3 separate regions of the Homo sapiens genome follow, and all the other regions are linked to region 1. The links come from fine-mapping of genetic effects on gene expression. A gene starts in region 1. Each other region holds a variant in brackets. All regions are shown on one strand. Distances are between the middles of the regions.

The links. PIP is the estimated chance that this variant, and not a neighbour inherited with it, causes the effect.
Region 2: its variant is fine-mapped to the expression of COX19 in whole blood (TOPMed, PIP 0.98).
Region 3: its variant is fine-mapped to the expression of COX19 in whole blood (TOPMed, PIP above 0.99).

Annotation. Positions count from the first base shown.
Region 1 is chr7:973,174-978,920 of GRCh38, reverse strand. It overlaps COX19 (cytochrome c oxidase assembly factor COX19), which reads left to right and starts at 3,372. Exons shown (of 3, transcript NM_001031617.3): 1 at 3,372-3,493; 2 at 5,629-5,740. The coding sequence starts at 3,412. It also overlaps a transcript of CHLSN not described here. RefSeq lists enhancers at 2,386-3,266, 3,898-3,967, 3,267-4,149 and silencers at 3,198-3,477, 3,498-3,657.
Region 2 is chr7:946,258-952,004 of GRCh38, reverse strand. All of the region lies in intron 1 of ADAP1 (ArfGAP with dual PH domains 1), which reads left to right. Among named protein-coding and RNA genes, the nearest start is that of ADAP1, 5.5 kb to the left of the region's middle. RefSeq lists enhancers at 1,805-2,449, 2,450-3,095, 5,581-5,747. The variant G/A (reference allele first, on the strand shown) is at 3,333.
Region 3 is chr7:936,293-942,039 of GRCh38, reverse strand. The region is part of intron 1 of ADAP1 (ArfGAP with dual PH domains 1); the gene reads left to right. Among named protein-coding and RNA genes, the nearest start is that of ADAP1, 16 kb to the left of the region's middle. RefSeq lists a silencer at 5,036-5,085. The variant G/C (reference allele first, on the strand shown) is at 2,841.

The DNA.
Region 1 (5,747 bases):
GTGTGCCATCGTGAGTGGATCCTCCAGTCCGAAGTGGAGCTAACCCGGCCCAGGCCTCGTGGAATGTCTCCACCAAGCCCTGCCCAAGTGCAAGTGCAAGTTCACGGGTAATGACTGCTGCTAAGCTTGGGGTGCTTTGTTATGCAGCGGCAGATAACGCGAACACGGCCACGTAAGCTTCAGCAAGGGCTGTGACCCCTTGAGTCTGTTTCTCTGTGTCAGATGAGGATAATAAGACCTACTTAGCTGGATTCATTCATCTTCGAGCTATAAACGGAGCATGTCCAGCGTGCCAGGCACTGCTCCAGGCTCTGGGGATCCGGGTGGAAATACCTGCAATACCTTGATTGCTGGGGCTCAAACAAGGTTCGTTCCCTCCTCTGAGCTTTTCCTTTTTTCTTGTAGACAAGGTCTCACTTTTTTGCCCAGGCTGCAGTGCAGTGGTGCGATCTTGGTTCACTGCAGCCTCGACCTCCCAGGGCTCAGACGATCCTCCCACCTCAGCCTCTGGGGTAGCTGGGACCACAGGTGTGCGCCCCTACACCTGGCTAATTTTTGTATTTTTTATAGACGTAGGGTTTCAGCATGTTGCCAAGGCTGGTCTCAAACTCCTGGGCTCAAGTGGTCCGCCCACCTCGGCTTCCCAGAGTGTTGGGATTACAGGTGTGAGCCACCGCCCCCAGCCCCTTCCCCACTTTTTACACCGGTGAACTGCTCATAAAAATTCTTTCCTCTTCTCTCCCAGCTAAAGATCTCATATAAAGCAATAATCATTTGCCAGGTGACAGTCAATTAAAAGCCGGTTGTCACCTCCAGGCCACAGGTCCCTCGGGGCTCCCAGACAGAGAGGCTTAGGGCAGCCCCAACGGAGGGGCTGTCCTTCCACTGCTAAGCGGCTGCTGCAGTCAAGTGAGTGAGCGCTTCTTTGCTGGGTAATAAAAGCTCCCATTGTTCACAGCCCTGGAAACGTATTAATGAGTAACCCAGTGTGTGGGCCCCTGGTTCTAACCGGGTAAAAAGAGTTGTTTATATGACAGGAACAAGCTGCAATTTTCCTTTTGTAGTTTTCAGTGGGCCCAGAGCCACAGGCCAATCAAGGCCCTGACAACTAGATTTCTGCAGCCCTGGGCCCTCCTTGGGGCCTTGGCCTGAGGTCCCCACTGCCCTGCGGTTCAGAAACATTCAGTGCCAGACTCGCGGCTCAGCTCTGGGCACACAGAGCAGAGTCCGACCTTGGGCGCAGGAATCTAATGGTGTGCGTTGCAGAGGGGCGGGCTCACCAGGGCCCAGCAAGGGGGAGAGCTGGAAGCCTCATGGGGAGGGGACGCCTGGGCCAGGCTTGAAGAAGGGCAGGCCCCGGGGTGGGGGCTGTTGGGCCGCCTTGACCAAGCCCTTGTCTGCAAACAACCCCTGGGAAGTTGCAGGAACTGGCTCCTAAGCAACAGTGGGTTCAGGTGTCACCAGGGTCCAGAGCGGGGGGCCAGGCAGCGAACTCGGTGTTGCTGGGGACCCACTGTGCTTACCACGAAGGCCTGGCCAGTGATTGTGAAATGGGTGGGATGGATGAGTGAGTGGAGGCTGGAGCTTGGGCCGCCCATGGTGCTCTAAACGGGCCAGTGTTCGACTTCCTCATGGCCAGGGCATGTGGGTACAGGTTCAGGGCTGGGAGAGACTCCGCGGGTGGACGCTGGGGTCTTCACTGAGCCCTTTCCCACGACTGCTGTTGCCATGACAACATCGACACGCAAAGGCCGGGCCTTACCGCTTACAGTACACTTTCATTCTGCCCTAGGTTGAGCTGTAACTACCCTCCACCCCCATTCGTATGGTGAAGCCACTAGGACCTTAGGATGTGACCTTTGCTTTGGAAATAGGTGCCAGGTGCGGCGGCTCACGCCTGTCATCCCAGCCCTTTGGGAGGCTGAAGTGGGCGGATCACTTAAGGTCAGGAGTTCGAGACCAGCCTGGGCAACATGGTGAAACCCCGTCTCTACGAAAAGTACAAAAAATTAGCCGGGTGTGGTGGCGCATGCCTGTAATCCCAGCTACTCTGGAGGCTGAGGCAGGAGAATCTCTTGAACTCGGGAAGTGGAGGTTGCGGTGAGCCGAGATCGTACCACTGCACGCCCGTCTAGGTTACAAAGTGAGACTCTGTGTTGAAAAAAAATATATTAGCTTAGCTGGGTGTGTTGGTGGCGCCTGTAATCCCAGCTACTCGGGAGGCTGAGGCAGGAGAATTGCTTTAACCTGGGAGGTGGAGGTTGCAATGAGCCAGGATCGAGCCACTGTACTCCAGCCTGGGCAACAAGAGAGAGACTCCGTTTTAAAAAACAAAACAAAGAAATAGGGTTGCTGCTGATATAATTAGTTAAGATGAAGTTATTGGGACGGCCCCTAACCCAACATGACTGCTATCCTTATAAAAAGAGGAAATTTAGGTTGGGCATGGTGGCTCATGCCTATAATCCCGGCATTTAGGGAGGCTGAGGCAGGAGGATTGCCTGAGCCCAGGAGTTAAGGACCAGCCTGGGCAACATAGGGAGACTCCATCTCTACGAAAAATAGAAAAATTAGCCTGGTGTGGTGGTGTGTGCCTGTGGTCGCAGCTACTCAGGAGGCTGGGGTGAGAGGATCGCTGAGCCCAGGAGGTCGAGGCTGCAGTGAGTCGTGATCATGCCACTGCACTCTAGTCTGGGCAACAGAGCAATACCCTGTCTCAAATAAATAAATAAAAATAGTAAATTTGGACATGCGCAGGACACCATGGGAACGTAGGGGCCGAGACCAGGTGGTGCTTCTGCAAGCCAAGGAACCTCACAGGCTGGCGGCCCCCAGAAGCTGGGAGGCTGGGACTGTCCCCAGGGCCCCCACTCTGCCCACTGCTTGGACTCCAGACCCCAGGACTGAGAGCACATTCCTGTTGTTGAAGCTGCTCGGTGGTGTCACCTGGCTCCAGCAGCCGCAGGCAGCGAGTCCACAGGCTCTCCTGTCCCTCCTGTGCCGCCTTCCTCCCCGGATGGGCCCCGTGATGAGGTCTCTGTGCGATGGGGAAACCGAGGCCCCAGCAGACACCTGGGATGCAGAGACGCCGGCACCGCTATGTGTCCTCGGGCAATTCGCTGAACCTTTCTGGGCCTCGGTTTCTCACCAATTCCAAAAGCTGATTCTGCTACCGACTGCTGTGAGGGTCCCAGGGGACGGGAAAGCCCGGGCAGCGCCCACCGGGGCTCAGGAGCTTGCTGACTCCGAGGGGGTGGGGCCGGGCCTGGGCAAGGGGTGGGGCCGGGCCTGGGCAAGGGGCGGGGACGGGGCCTGCTCGACGTGCTCGGCGCTCCCGGGGTGCCTGCTCGGCGCTCCGCCGGCCGCCCTGCGTACGCTCGCAAGGCGCTCGCAGACTCCGGAGTCGCCAACATGTCGACCGCCATGAATTTCGGGACCAAGAGCTTCCAGCCGCGGCCCCCGGACAAGGGCAGCTTCCCGCTGGATCACTTAGGTGAGCGGCGGAAGGTCGGCGGGCAGGGGTCTGCGATGGGGGGTCTGGGTCGCGGCCCAGCGCGGAGCCCTATGGGGTGCCGGCATCTAGCGCGGTGCAGGCGGGGAAACTGAGGCACGGCGGCCCGCCCCTCCGCCCCACCCAGCCCTGGGTCACTGCTGCGGCATGGACCCTGCAGGTGGGAGCTGGCAGGACCGTGGCCCCCGTGACGAGGGCAGCGACACCGACTCCTTGCGTCAGGCTTCCGGGTCTCCGGCTCCGCCCTGACTCACCCGGCGGGCTGTCTGTGCCCCGGGTTTGCAGAGCGGGGCATTCGGCGGCCACGAAGCCCGCAGCTGCAGCCGAGGCTTAGACGGTGCCTAGCGATGTCTGCTGCAAAGCTCAAAAGTGCTGCTGATCTCCCAGTGCTTCTGGCCGTATTCCGGTGGGGTTGCCTCCGTGGACATGAAGGCTTCGAAAAAGGATCTGTGGGCCGGGCGCGGTGGCTCATGCCTGTGATCCCAGCCCTTTGGGAGGCCGAGGTGGGCGGATCATTTAAGATCAGGAGTTCGAGACCAGCCTGCCCAACATGGGGAAACCCCGTCTCTACTAAAAATACAAAAATTAGTTGGGTGTGATGTGGCTCGCCTGTAGTCCCAGCTACTCGGGAGGCTGAGGCAGGAGAATCGCTTGAACCGGGAGACGGAGGTTGCAGTGAGCCGAGATCGGGCCACTGCACTGCAGCTTGGGCGACAGAGTGAGACAACGTCTCAAAAAAAAAAAGAAAGAAAAGAAAAGAAAAACGATCTGTGAATTACTGTTTCTTTCCCAACATTTTATTGTGACATTTTCAAATAGCAAAAATGAAAGAATTTTTACCCTGAACTCTCCTGTGACCATCACCTACATTGCACCTTAACCTCGTACTGGGCTGACTTTACCTCGTTGTGGGTTTTTTCCATTGTTGTTTTCAGCATGTTTATGAAGGAAACAAGTTTGGGTTTGATTGTTTTTGTTTTGAGACACGGTCTCACTCTGTTGCTTAGGCTGGAGTGCAGTGGTGCAATCATAGCTCACTGAAGCCTCGGCCTCCTTCCTTTCTGGACTCAGGGGAGTCTCCCGTCTCATCCTCTAGAGTAGCTGGGACTATAGGTGTGCAGCGCCACACCCAGCTAATTTTTTTTTTTTTTTTTTTTTTAGAGATGGGGTTTCCCCATGTTGCCCAGGCTGGATTATTTATTTATTTATTTTTGAAATGGACTCTCACTGTGTCGCCCAGGCTGGAGTGCAGTGGTGTGATCTCGACTCACTGCAACCTCCTCCTCCCGGGTTCAAGCGATTCTCCTGTCTCAGCCTCTAGAGTAGCTGGGACTATAGGTGTGCAACACCACACCCAGCTAATTATTATTGTTTTTTTATTTTTTATTTTAAAGATGGAGTTTCCCCATGTTGACCAGGCTGGATCATTTATTTATTTATTTTTGAAATGGAGTCTCACTCTGTCACCCAGGCTGGAGTGCAGTGGTGTGATCTCGACTCGCTGCAACCTCCGCTTCCTGGGTTCAAGCAATTCTCCTGCCTCAGCCTCCCGAGTAGCTGGGACTACAGACACCCGCCACCATGCCCGGCTAATTTTTGTATTTTTAATAGAGATGGGGTTTCACCAAGTTGGCCGAGCTGGTCTTGAACTCCTGACCTCAGGTGATCCGCCCACCTCTGCCTCCCAAAGTGCTAGGATTACAGGCGTGAGCCACCGTGCCCAGCCTGGATTATTTTTAGGAGACAAGGTCTTGATCTGTTGCCCAGGCTGGAGTGCAGTGGTGTGATCAAGCTCACTGCAGCCTCGAAATCCTTTGCTCAAGCGATCTTCCTGCCTCAGCCTCCTGAGTAGCTGGAACCACAGACGTGCGCCACACCTAGCTAACTTTTAAGGTTTTTTTTGGTAGAGATGGGGGTCTCACTGTGTTGCCCAGGCTGGTCTCAAACTCCTGGGGTCAGGTGATCCTCTCAGAGTGCTGGGATTACAGGTGTGAACCACTGCGCCCGGCCTGAGGAAACAAGTTTTGAAAGGAAAAGCAGCGCAGCTCTTAAGGCTGTTGTGTGGTTGCATCACTTTTCACTCTGAAAAGAACATGCTGTTTTCTTTCTCGTTCTAGGTGAATGTAAAAGCTTTAAAGAGAAATTCATGAAGTGTCTTCATAACAATAATTTTGAAAATGCTTTGTGCAGAAAGGAATCAAAAGAATATTTAGAATGCAGGATGGAGAGGTGAGTA
Region 2 (5,747 bases), 27 kb after region 1:
TCCTTGGAGCTGCCTGCCAAATCGCAACAGAGGACAGGGACCGGGCGCGGTGGCTCACGCCTGTCATCCCAGTGCTTTGGGAGGCCGAGGCCGGAGGATCGCTTGAGGCCAGGAGTTGGAAGCTGCAGTGAGTCGTGATCACACTCCAGCCTAGGCCAGAGTGAGACCCTGTCTCAAAAAAAAGAAAAACACACATATTGTCCTCTTTGAGTCTCAGGCCATCTGATGCCCCGGAAGGACTGGGGTGTCTGAGCTCTTTTGTTCTTTTTTATTTTAAGGTCTCGCTCTGTCACCCAGGCTGGAGTGCAGTGGCACAATCTCAACTCACTGCAGCCTCTGCCTCCAGGGCTCAAGCAATCCTCCCACCTCAGCCTCCTGAGTAGCTGGGACTACAGGTCCATGCCACCATGCCCAGCTAATTTTTTTTTTTAAGACAGTCTCTCGATGTCACCCAGGCTACAGTGCAGTGGCACGATCTTTGCTCACTGCAACCTCCAACTCCCAGTTTCAGGAATTTGGCCGGCATGGGTGAGGGTGGGAAGAAGGCTGCTGAGTGTGGGCGGGGGCTGGGCAGACTCCCTTCACTCCCCAGGGCAGCGGCCCAACTAGGTTGGATATTTTTTTTTTTTTTTGAGACGGAGTCTCGCTCTGTCGCCCAGGCTGGACTGCAGTGGTGCGATCTCGGCTCACTGCAAGCTCCCCCTCCCAGGTTCACACCATTCTCCTGCCTCAGCCTCCCGAGTAGCTGGGACTACAGGCACCCGCCACCACGCCCGGCTAATTTTTGTATTTTTAGTAGAGATGGGGTTTCACCATGTTAGCCAGGATGGTCTCCGTCTCCTGACCTCGTGATCCACCCGCCTCGGCCTCCCAAAGTGCTGGGATTCCAGGCATGAGCCACCGCGCCTGGCCGGATTTTTTAAAAATAATAATTTACCTTCTCATCGTTTCGAGTGCACAGTTCCAGGGCCTTGAGCACGTTCACTCACCGTGCCACCGCCACCACCATCATCTCCAGAACCTCCTCATCTTCCCAAACTGAAGCTCTGTCCCCATTCAACAAGGGCTCCAGATTTCCTCTCCCCAGTCCGGGGCACCCACCCTTCTACTTTCTGTTCTTTTCTTGTTTTTTTTTTTTTTTTTTTTTTGAGACGGAGTCTTGCTCTGTTCCCAAGGCTGGAATGCAGTGGCGCCATTTCAGCTCACTGCAACCTCTGCCTCCTGGGTTCAAACGATTCTCCTGCCTCAGTCCCCTGAGTAGCTGGGATTACAGGCGCCTGCCACCACGCCCGGCTAATTTTTGTATTTTTGGTAGAGACAGGGTTTCGCCATGTTGGCCAGGCTGGTCTTGAACTCCTGACCTCAGGTCATCCTCCCAACTTGGCCTCCCAAATGGCTGGGATTACAGGCATGAGCCACCGTGCCTGGCCTCAACTTTCTGTCTCTATGAATCTTATGACTCCAGGGACCTTGTAGAAGTGAAACCATGCGGTATTCATTTTTTTTTTTTTTTTTTTTTGAGGCAGAGTCTCATTCTGTCGCCCAGGCTGGAGTGCAGTGGCACCTTCTCAGCTCACTGCAAGCTCCGCCTCCCAGGCTCATGCCATTCTCCTGCCTCAGCCTCCCGAGTAGCTGGGACTACAGGTGCACGCTGCCATGCCCGGCTAAGTTTTCTGTATTTTTAGTAGAGATGGGGTTTCACCACGTTAGCCAGGACGGTCTCGATCTCCTGACCTTGTGATCCGCCTGCCTCGGCCTCCCGAAGTGCTGGGATTACAGGTGTGAGCCACCATGCCCGGCTGGTATTCATTCTTTTGTGACTGGCCAGTTTCACTCAGTCTAACGTCTCCAGGTTCACAGATGCTGTGGCGAGTGCTGGGATTTCCCTGCATGTGAAGACAGGATCATACCCTGTGTGGATGAACCACATTGCGTGTGCCCGTTTGTCTGCAGGCGGACACTGGGCTGCTCCCACCTCTGGGCCATTGTGAATCGTGCTGTGTGAGCACGAGGGTGCAGATGTCTCTCTGAGACCCTGCTTCAGGTTGTTTGGGTCTGTACCCAGGACTGGAGTTGCTGGGTCCCATGGCGATTCTGTGCTTACCTGGTTGAAGAACTGCTAGACAGGTTTCCCCTACCTGGTTTTGCACTCAAGCCACAGGCCAGCAGGTCACACGTGCCCGCTTCCTGCCTGCCTGCCCTGTGGCCGGGTGTGGAGGGCTGGTGTGGGCGATGAGCTGGCACTCAGGGCTGGGAGGAGCTGGAGGCCTTTCCCTCTGTCCTGCGCCTGGTGCCCAGGCCCTGGCCAGGCTCCCCCCAACTTCAGCCTAGACTGGGCCCCCTCTCCAAATGCACCGGAGCTGTGGTGTGGGCCAAGGTTACTGCTTTGTGGACTCCTTGGGCCGCTGCACCGGCCGTGACCGCAGCCAGCTTCCCCGACGCACAGATGCTGTGAGCTAGACCTCAGCTCTGGACATATCTCAGGTTAGGTGTGGCACTGCCCCTGCCCCCAGGCCCTGTGCTCCTAGGCCACTGCCGTTTTAGACTCAGAGGCATTTGCCAAGCCTTGCTCTGTGGCAGTACCTGGCAGCCAGCCGCATCCCCCAACTGCTTCTCCCGTCACCCGTCAGGTGGCTGCATGGCCCCATTTTGCAAATGAAAGAATGAGGAAACAGGAAGGGACTTGGTGGGGTCCAAGGTGGCTGAGGCGGCACGTGGCCGTGTGGCCAGGAGGTATGTGCTCATGTGCCCGGGGGAGGCAGAGGCCCACAAGGGCTGAACTCCAGTGGTGCCCTACCCTGGACTCCGGCGGGCAAGGCGCCTTCCCCCGCTCCGTACACATGTACTGAGTGCCTTGCCCTGTGCAGTCACTGGGGCTCAGGGAGACCGGACCAGACCAGCCCTTCACTCTCAGCATCTGCTGTTCCTTGGTGGGGAGACAAAGACAGACAGATGGTGATGGCACTTGGGGACAAGGAGGGCCGAGGGTAGAGTAAGAATTGTGAGTGAGGGCCGGGCATGGTGGCTCACGCCTGTAATCCCAGCACTTTGGGAGGCTGAGGCGGGAGGATCACGAGGTCAGGAGATCAGGACCATCCTGGCCAACATGGTGAAACCCCATCTCTACTAAAAATACAAAAATTAGTTGGGTGTGGTGGCGCACGCCTGAAATCCCAGCTACTCGGGAGGTTGAGGTGGGAGAATCGCTCGAACCTGGTAGGCAGAGGTTGCAGAGAGCCGAGATCATGCCACTGCACTCCAGCCTGGGCGACAGAGTGATATTCTGTCTCAAGGGAAAAAAAAGGACATAGAATCTTGGATGCCCCGTAAAC[G/A]CGTTTTCAGGAAGGAGTACTGGGCACCTATGGGCTGGGAGGTGGGTCAGGGAGGAGCAAACTGACCCCAAGTCACTGTCCAGGTGGTGGTGGTGACAGCTTAGCAGGTGAATGAGAGGCCAGAGGGGGTCGTGGCACCTGGAGATGCATTTGGAGAAGTTCTGCTAAGACCGGGGCAGAGACCTGCAGTGGGAGCTCGGCCTGGCATGCAGGGGAAGGCTTTGGAAGTGACTGTTTTCCTCATGGAGGACGAGGCCAGGCCATGGGCCGGCGGGGAGGGAAGCCGAAACTCGGGCCACCATGGAGCGCTTCTGCAGGGCGTGTTCCATTCAGAAGCTCAGGCCTCGGTGGGTACAGAGGTGGGCTCCGTACTGAATGATGGAGGGAGGGGTGAGGGGCAGAGGGCATTGCACTGATGGACCTGGGATCCCACCCGGGCAAGGGGGCAGGGCAGACATGGGGTGAGGAGGGAGGGACAGACATGGCTGGGTCAGGTCCTGCAGATTCAGGATGGGGGCTGGGGCTCGGGGGTTGTGAGCGGGAAAGGCCCAGCTGGAATAGAGTGGGTTCAGGGCAGGCCGTGGGGTGGCCAAGGTGTGGGGTGAGGAGCAGGTCCCTGGCAGTGCTGGGTCCTCAGTGGAGGAGGGAGACGGCCCCTCCGGAAGAGGGAGTGGGGTAAAGGGGCTGGTGGTGTCGGGGGTGGGGGCAGCCGTGCACCTCGCAGGTCAAAGGAGAAGTGAGGAGGCCAGTGTGCCCAGAGCCAGGGCGGGGAGACGGGGTCAGAGGTGGCTGTGGGGCCACGCAGGGCTGGGGGACGCTGTGAGGGCTGCGCTGTGACTCTGGGTGGGATGGGAACCATGGGAATTCTGTGAGCCGAGGAGTGTCCCAGCCCACGACGCGTCACAGGGTCCAGGGCAGGTAGGGCCAGCGCGGGAGCGGGAGGTGGGTGGGACGCTGCTGCAGTGACCGAGGCCGGGTGGCGGTGGCTAGGCCTAGGGCGGGGCGTGAGTGTGGGGAGGGTCAAAGCCTGGATCGTCTTGAAATATTTGCTGGTCAACGGGATGTCGGGGTGTGGTGGGCAGAGTAGAAATGAGGACACCCAGGCCTTTAGCCAGCACCTCACTCGCTGAGATGGGGACGTGGGAGCAGTGTCCAGGGAGACGGGAGGGACCTGCGATGTGAGGCTCTGTGAGAAGCCACGGTGGCCGCCAAGGGGACAGCAGCCACACGGGCAGCTCTGGAGGAAAGAGGCCCGAGCTAGAGACAGGGGTTGCCAGTGTGTGAATGTCTCTCTCTCTCCTTTTTTAAAAAATCAAGGTCAGGCGCGGTGGCTCACACCTGTGATCCCAGCACTTTGGGAGGCTGAGGTGGGAGGATCGCTTGAGCCCAGGAGTTCAAGGTCAGCCTGGCCAACATGGTGAGACCCCCATCTCTAAAAAAAAAAAAAAAAAAAAAAAACCAAAAAATCAGCCAGATGTGGTGGTGCACACCTGTGGTCCCAGCTACTCAGGAAGCTGAGGTGGGAGGATTACCTGAGCCCAGGAGGCCGAGGCTGCAGTGAACCATGATCGCACCACTGCACTCCAGCCTGAGTGACAGAGACCCTCTCTCAAAAAAACAAAAAATGAAAAAAAACAAAACCCCAAATCGAGGTGCAATTCATATGAAAAATTAACCTTTTATAGAAAATTTTTTCATAAGGATGGAGTCGCGGTGTCTCACTATGTTGCCCAGGCTGGTCTCGAACTCCTGGGCTCCACCCGTTCACCTTGGCCTCTCCAGGTGCTGAGATTGCAGGCGTGAGCCGCCCCGCCCGGCCTCAGGTTAATCATTTCAAAGTGAAAATTCAGTGGCATTTAGAACGTTCTCCATGCTGTTCAACCACCACCTCTATCGAGTTCCAAAAATAGGGTTTGACAGCCGAGAGACCAGATGGGCCGCAGAGGAGTCGGCCCTGTGCGAGGGCCCTGAAGAGCCTGGAGGGGCGCGGGGTGGGGGCCCCAGAGAGTGGGCTCCGGGACAGGGTGGGTCCAGGGAGGACTGGGGATGGCCTTCACCGTGGGGTTCCCGCCATGGGGCTGGAGCACCAGGAGGGAGAGAGGGTGGGAGGGCAGGGGCAGGGCAGAGCCTGGGGGGGTCCTTGGGGGATTCTGAAAATGGACTGTGTCCGGGTGCTGCTGGGAGGGATCCAGGAGAGGGGCACGTGTCCCTGAACCGGGTAGGGGCCAGCGGATCTGGGTCCTGGGAGGGCCTGTTCCTAGGGCCAAAGGGCCCCATCCTCACAATGGAATGGGACCAGGGCCGCCCGTGAGCGTGAGGGGGTGGGGGCCTGGGGCCTGGGCAGAGAGGAGGTGTGGGCTGCCAGCCCACCCAGGAGCTCCAGAGGTCACTGCCTCGCTGGCGGGGATCCACCGG
Region 3 (5,747 bases), 37 kb after region 1:
AGAACTGGCTTTATATCTTTGCCGATAATTAGTTGTCCACATATGTGTGGGTTTATTTCTAGATTCCCGATTCTGTTCCATTGATCCGTTTATCCGTTTTTGTGCCAACACCACCACACTGTCTTGATAACTGTAATTTTTTAATGAGTTCTGAAAACAAGTAGTGTTAGTTCCCCGTCCTTGTCTTTTTTTTCTAAGTTGTTTTAGCTATTCTAGGTCCTTTGCATTTACATATGAATTTTAGAATCAGCTTGTTCATTTCTATTTTTAAAATCCTGTTGAAATTCTGATTGGGATGGCATTGAATCTATAATTTGGAGAGAATATATGTGTTATTAATGTTGAGTCTCCCATCCCACGAAAACGTTATCTCTTTCCAAAATCTGTAGGTCTTCTTTAATTTCTCTGAGCAATATTTTGTAGTTTTCAGTGTCCTATGTTTCATTTCTCATCACATTTATCCCTCTTTCATACATTTTATGCTATTATAAATGGTATTTTTAAATGTTCAATTTCTGAATGCTTGTTGCTAGTGTATAGAAATACAATAGATTTTTGTATATTTATCTTGTATCCTTCAACCTTGCTAAACTTGTTAGTTCTCATAGTTGTTTTTAATAGAATCTTTTCTATTTTCTACATAGACAATCATGTTGTCTGTTAATGAAGATAGTTTTAGCTCTTCCTTTCCAATCTAGATGCTTTTTATTTCTTTATATTGCCTTATTGCACTGACTAGAATCTCTAGCTCAACGTTGACTAGGAGTGGTTAGAACAGACATTCTTGTCCTGTTCTTGATCTTGGGGGAAAGCAGTCAGTCATTCTCCCTTGAATATGACATTTGCTGTACATGTTTCATAGATCCTCTATATCAAATTGGGGAAATTACCCTCTATTCTTAGTTTTCTGAGAGTTTTATCAGGATGTTGCATTTTGCCAACATTTTTTGCATCTGTTGAATCATCTATGTCAAATTGGGGAAATTCCCCTCTATTCTTAGTTTTCTGAGAGTTTTATCAGGATGTTGCGTTTTGCCAACATTTTTTGCATCTGTTGAATCCTCTATATCAAATTGGGGAAATTCCCCTCTATTCTTAGTTTTCTGAGAATTTTATCAGGATGTTGCATTTTGCCAGCATTTTTTGCATCTATTGAAACAATTGTATGTTTTTTCTTTTTTAACCTGTAAATATGGTGAATGACATTGATTGATGGTCAAATGTTAAACCAACCTTGCATTACTGGTAAAAACCCCTGTTGATCATGGTGTATTACTCTTTTTATATATTGTTGGATGTACATCTTTTTATGGACCTACATTTTGATTTCCCTTGGGTAAATTCCTAGGAGTAGGGTGGCTGTGTCATATGGGAGATATATCTTTATGTAAGAAACTGCCAAGCTGTTTTCAGAGTGGGTTGGACTAATTTGTATTTCTACCAGCAGTGGATGAGAGTTCCACTTGCTCTGTATCCTCATCAACACTTGGTAGTATCCATCTTTTAAATTTTAGTCATCCTAGTAAAACTCCACAAAAGCTTTTTAAAAATGATACAAACTTCCTGCCCTACCAGTGACAACCTTGTGTTGCTCCTGTCTCCAACACACTTGATTTAACTGGCTCTCGTCTTTTGATTCTTATGTAAAAGGTCATGTCTCCATATTGTGTGTGTGTGTGTGTGTGTGTGTGTGTGTGTGTGTGTGTGTGACAGGGTCTGTGACACCCAGGCTGGAGTGTAGTCGTGCCATCTCGGCTCACTGCAACCTCCACCCCTGGGCTCAAGTGATCCTCCTACCTCAATCTCCCAAAATGCTGGGATGACAGGTGTGAGCACCCACACCTGGCTGGTGTCTCTATTTCTTCACATTTAACTCCCTGAGCCCTCCCCAGTAGGCTGTTCATGTTGTGTCTGTGGGTATGCACGCACGTATGTATATGCTCACACACAAATACCAAGGAGGATGTGACAGGTTTGCATCAGACAACCTCTAACTTTACACCGGGGGACCTTGTGCCAGTTGCAAGAGGTCGGGACAGGTTGTAACCACTCCTTAGCCTCACTTGTAGCTGGTTTGTCAAAGATAGGCTATATTAGTAATGGCTGTAAGCTATCAGTCCTACTTACAAGCCCTTCTTGGGCTCACTCATCTGTGCCACCCCCATTTTTCCCTCTAAGCAGACATTGGCAAACTTTTTTTTTTTTTTTTGAGACAAAGTCTCACTCTGTTGCCCAGGCTGGAGTGCAGTGGCACGATCTCGGCTCACTGCAATCTCCATCTCCCGGGTTCCAGTGATTCTCTTGCCTCAGCCTCCCAAGTAGCTGGGATTACAGGCACCCGCCACCACGCCCGGCTAATTTTTGTATTTTTAGTAGAGACGGGGTTTCACTATGTTGGCCAGACTGTTCTCACACTCCTGACCTCAGGTGATCCACCCGCCTTGGCCTCCCGAAGTGCTGGGATTACAGGTGTGAGCCACCACACGCAGCCAGCAAACTTTTTCTTAAAAAGACAGATAGTAGGCTGGGCGTGGTGGCTCACGCCTGTAATCCCAGCACTTTGTGAGGCCGAGGCAGGCGGATCACCTAAGTCGGGAGTTTGAGACCAGCCTGGCCAACATGGTGAAACCACATCTCTACTAAAAATAGAAAATTAGCCGGGCATGGTGGTGCACGCCTGTAATCCCAGCTACTCGGGAGGCTGAAGCAGGAGAATCACTTGAACCTGGGAGGCAGAAGTTGCAGTGAGCTGAGATCACACCATTGCACTCCAGCCTGGACAACAAGAGCGAAACTCTGTCTCAAAAAACAACAAAAATGACAGTAAATATTTTAGGGCC[G/C]TAGAGTCTCCATCACAGCTAGTCAACGACCGCTCACAAAAGCAGCTATAGACAGTTCATAAATGGGCATGGCTGAGTTCCAGTAACACCTTATTTACAACAACAGGCAGCTGGTCCACGCCGTAGAGTCCAGCTCCTGCTACGGGTTCCATGAACAGGCCTCCTTCCAGGCCCAGCTCCCTGGGTTCTGTGAACAGGCCTCCTTCCAGGCCAGGAGAGGGACAGCCTGTCCCGGAGCACCCGAGTGAGGTTGGAGGTGGGCACAGGCATTCTGGACCCTGGGCTGGGCGGGAGCTGTTGGTGGCCGTTGCTCAGCCTCCCTCAGAATTTCTAGATGGGCAGATAAAGGCCATGAGACAGGAAGCCTGGGTCCGTGGTCCACACTGTCGGAGCAGAACCAACAGCATTGCCATGCGGTGAGAAGGAGGGCCCCCCACTGCACCCCGAGCGGTGATGTTCCCAGCTGGGCTCATGTTGCCTGCTACCCCTGTAAGTGGCTCGTGCTGTCCCATCCGACAGATGAGGAGACCGAGGCCCGGAGACTGGCGTGCCTTCTGGGCGCCCCTCGCACAGCCACGTACCGAGCATTTGCGGCATCTTTCACCAAGGCTTCGGGAGAAGACGGAGCCCGGGGGGAGTCAGGTCTCTCTCTTCTGGGACTTCAGTGTGGTTCTTCCCCACCTGTTCTCCAGGGGTGTGTGTAACTAAATACTTTGCAGGCCAGACACGGCGTCACACATCTGTAATCCCAACACTTTAGGAGGCCAAGACAGGAGGATCGCTTGAGCCCAGGAGTTCAAGCCCAAGCTGGGCAACATAGAGAGACTTCATCTCTACCAAAAATTTTAAAAATTAGCTGGGTATGCTGGTGCATGCCTGCGGTCCCAGCTACTTGGAAGGCTGAGGCAGGAGGATCGCTTGAGCCCAGGCGTTGGAGGCTGCAGTGAGCTGTGAGCTGTGATTGCACCACTGCACTCCACCTTGGGCAACAGGGCAAGACCCTGTCTCAAAACAAAACAATACAATACAAGACAAAAAAAACCCCGCAAAACCAAACAACGGCTGATCCTGTAACCGCATTCTTTCTCCCAAAAGCCGCCCTACTCAGCACAGGCAAAACTCCTGGTACCCGAGACAGGGTCACTTGGGCAAATGTTTGACTGACTGAGGGGTGAGGAGAAAGCCTGTGGTCTCTCTCGAAGACAGGGGCTCTGCTGAAGTAGGGCTGTTAGTGGCCCCTTCATTCATGACTCCCGTGGAGACCTGCTCCGGACTGAGCTCTGTGCCAGATCCGGGGGTGCTGGGTCTGGGGTCCTCAAGAAGCCCACGTTAATGGGGAGACAGGCTTCATTAATCAGGGAGCCTAACAGCTGTGACAGAAAACCCCCAAATCCCAGAGGCCGGGCATGACCCCCAAATCCCAGATGTGCAGCGTGACCCCCAAATCCCAGAGGCCGGGCATGACCCCCAAATCCCAGAGGTCGGGCATGACCCCCAAATCCCAGAGGCCGGGCATGACCCCCAAATCCCAGAGGCCGGGCATGACCCCCAAATCCCAGAGGTCGGGCGTGACCCCCAAATCCCAGAGGCCGGGCGTGACCCCCAAATCCCAGAGGTCGGGCGTGACCCCCAAATCCCAGAGGCCGGGCGTGACCCCCAAATCCCAGAGGTCGGGCATGACCTCCAAATCCCAGAGGCCGGGCATGACCTCCAAATCCCAGAGGCCGGGCATGACCCCCAAATCCCAAAGGTCGGGCGTGACCCCCAAATCCCAGAGGCCGGGCGTGACCCCCAAATCCCAGAGGTCGGGCGTGACCCCCAAATCCCAGAGGCCCGGCGTGACCCCCAAATCCCAGATGTGCAGCGTGACCCCCAAATCCCAGAGGCCAGGCATGACCCCCAAATCCCAGAGGCCAGGCATGACCCCCAAATCCCAGAGGTCGGGCGTGACCCCCAAATCCCAGAGGCCGGGCGTGACCCCCAAATCCCAGAGGTCGGGCGTGACCCCCAAATCCCAGAGGTCGGGCGTGACCCCCAAATCCCAGAGGCCGGGCGTGACCCCCAAATCCCAGAGGTCGGGCGTGACCCCCAAATCCGAGGCCCGGCGTGACCCCCAAATCCCAGAGGCCGGGCATGACCCCCAAATCCGAGGTTCAGCCTGCTGGTTCTCACGCACCATCCCCGGCCGGGGGCTCACTTGGGTGCCTCTCCTCCTGGCAGTGACTCAGAGCCCAGGCCCAGCCCCAGCCCCACTGGGCCTCCGCCGCCTGGCATGGGAGTCCCCCACCAGCCAGGGGTGGGCCCCGATCAGCGTTGGGAGGGGGGCTATCCTCCGCCAGGCCTGAAGGGTGGGGTCCTCTCCACTCATGATTCCCCAAACAGGCTTGGGTCCACAGCCGCACCTGCTTGTGGGGAAGCGCCTCGATTTCCACCAGCCTCACCCAGGAGAGCCTCCACTTAAAAATAAAAGCAGTTCAGAGATGACTCATCTCCCCCAGAGAGACTGTTCTCTCTAGGGTGCCTTTCAGCCATTCCACTCCCTTGACTTATTGTGAAGGGTCGTTGGGAGCCAGAAGAAAACAGGAGAGTCACACAGCAGCCCTCTTAGCCATCGCCCCAGGGCGGGGCTGGACGCTCCCCACATTTTGCCGTTTCAGAATGAGACATTTCACACGTGCAGCAGCAGAAAGACTGCGCTGTGGCACCCACACCCTGGGCAGTGGCTCACGCCTGTCATCCCAGCACTTTGGGAGGCCGAGCAGGTGGATTACTTGAGGTCAAGAGTTCGAGGCCAGCCTGGCCAACATGATGAAACCCCATCTCCACTAAAAATACAAAAGTTAGCCGGGCATGGTGGTGCGTGCCTCGCTACTCGGGAGGCTAAGGCAGGAGAATCGCTTGAACCCG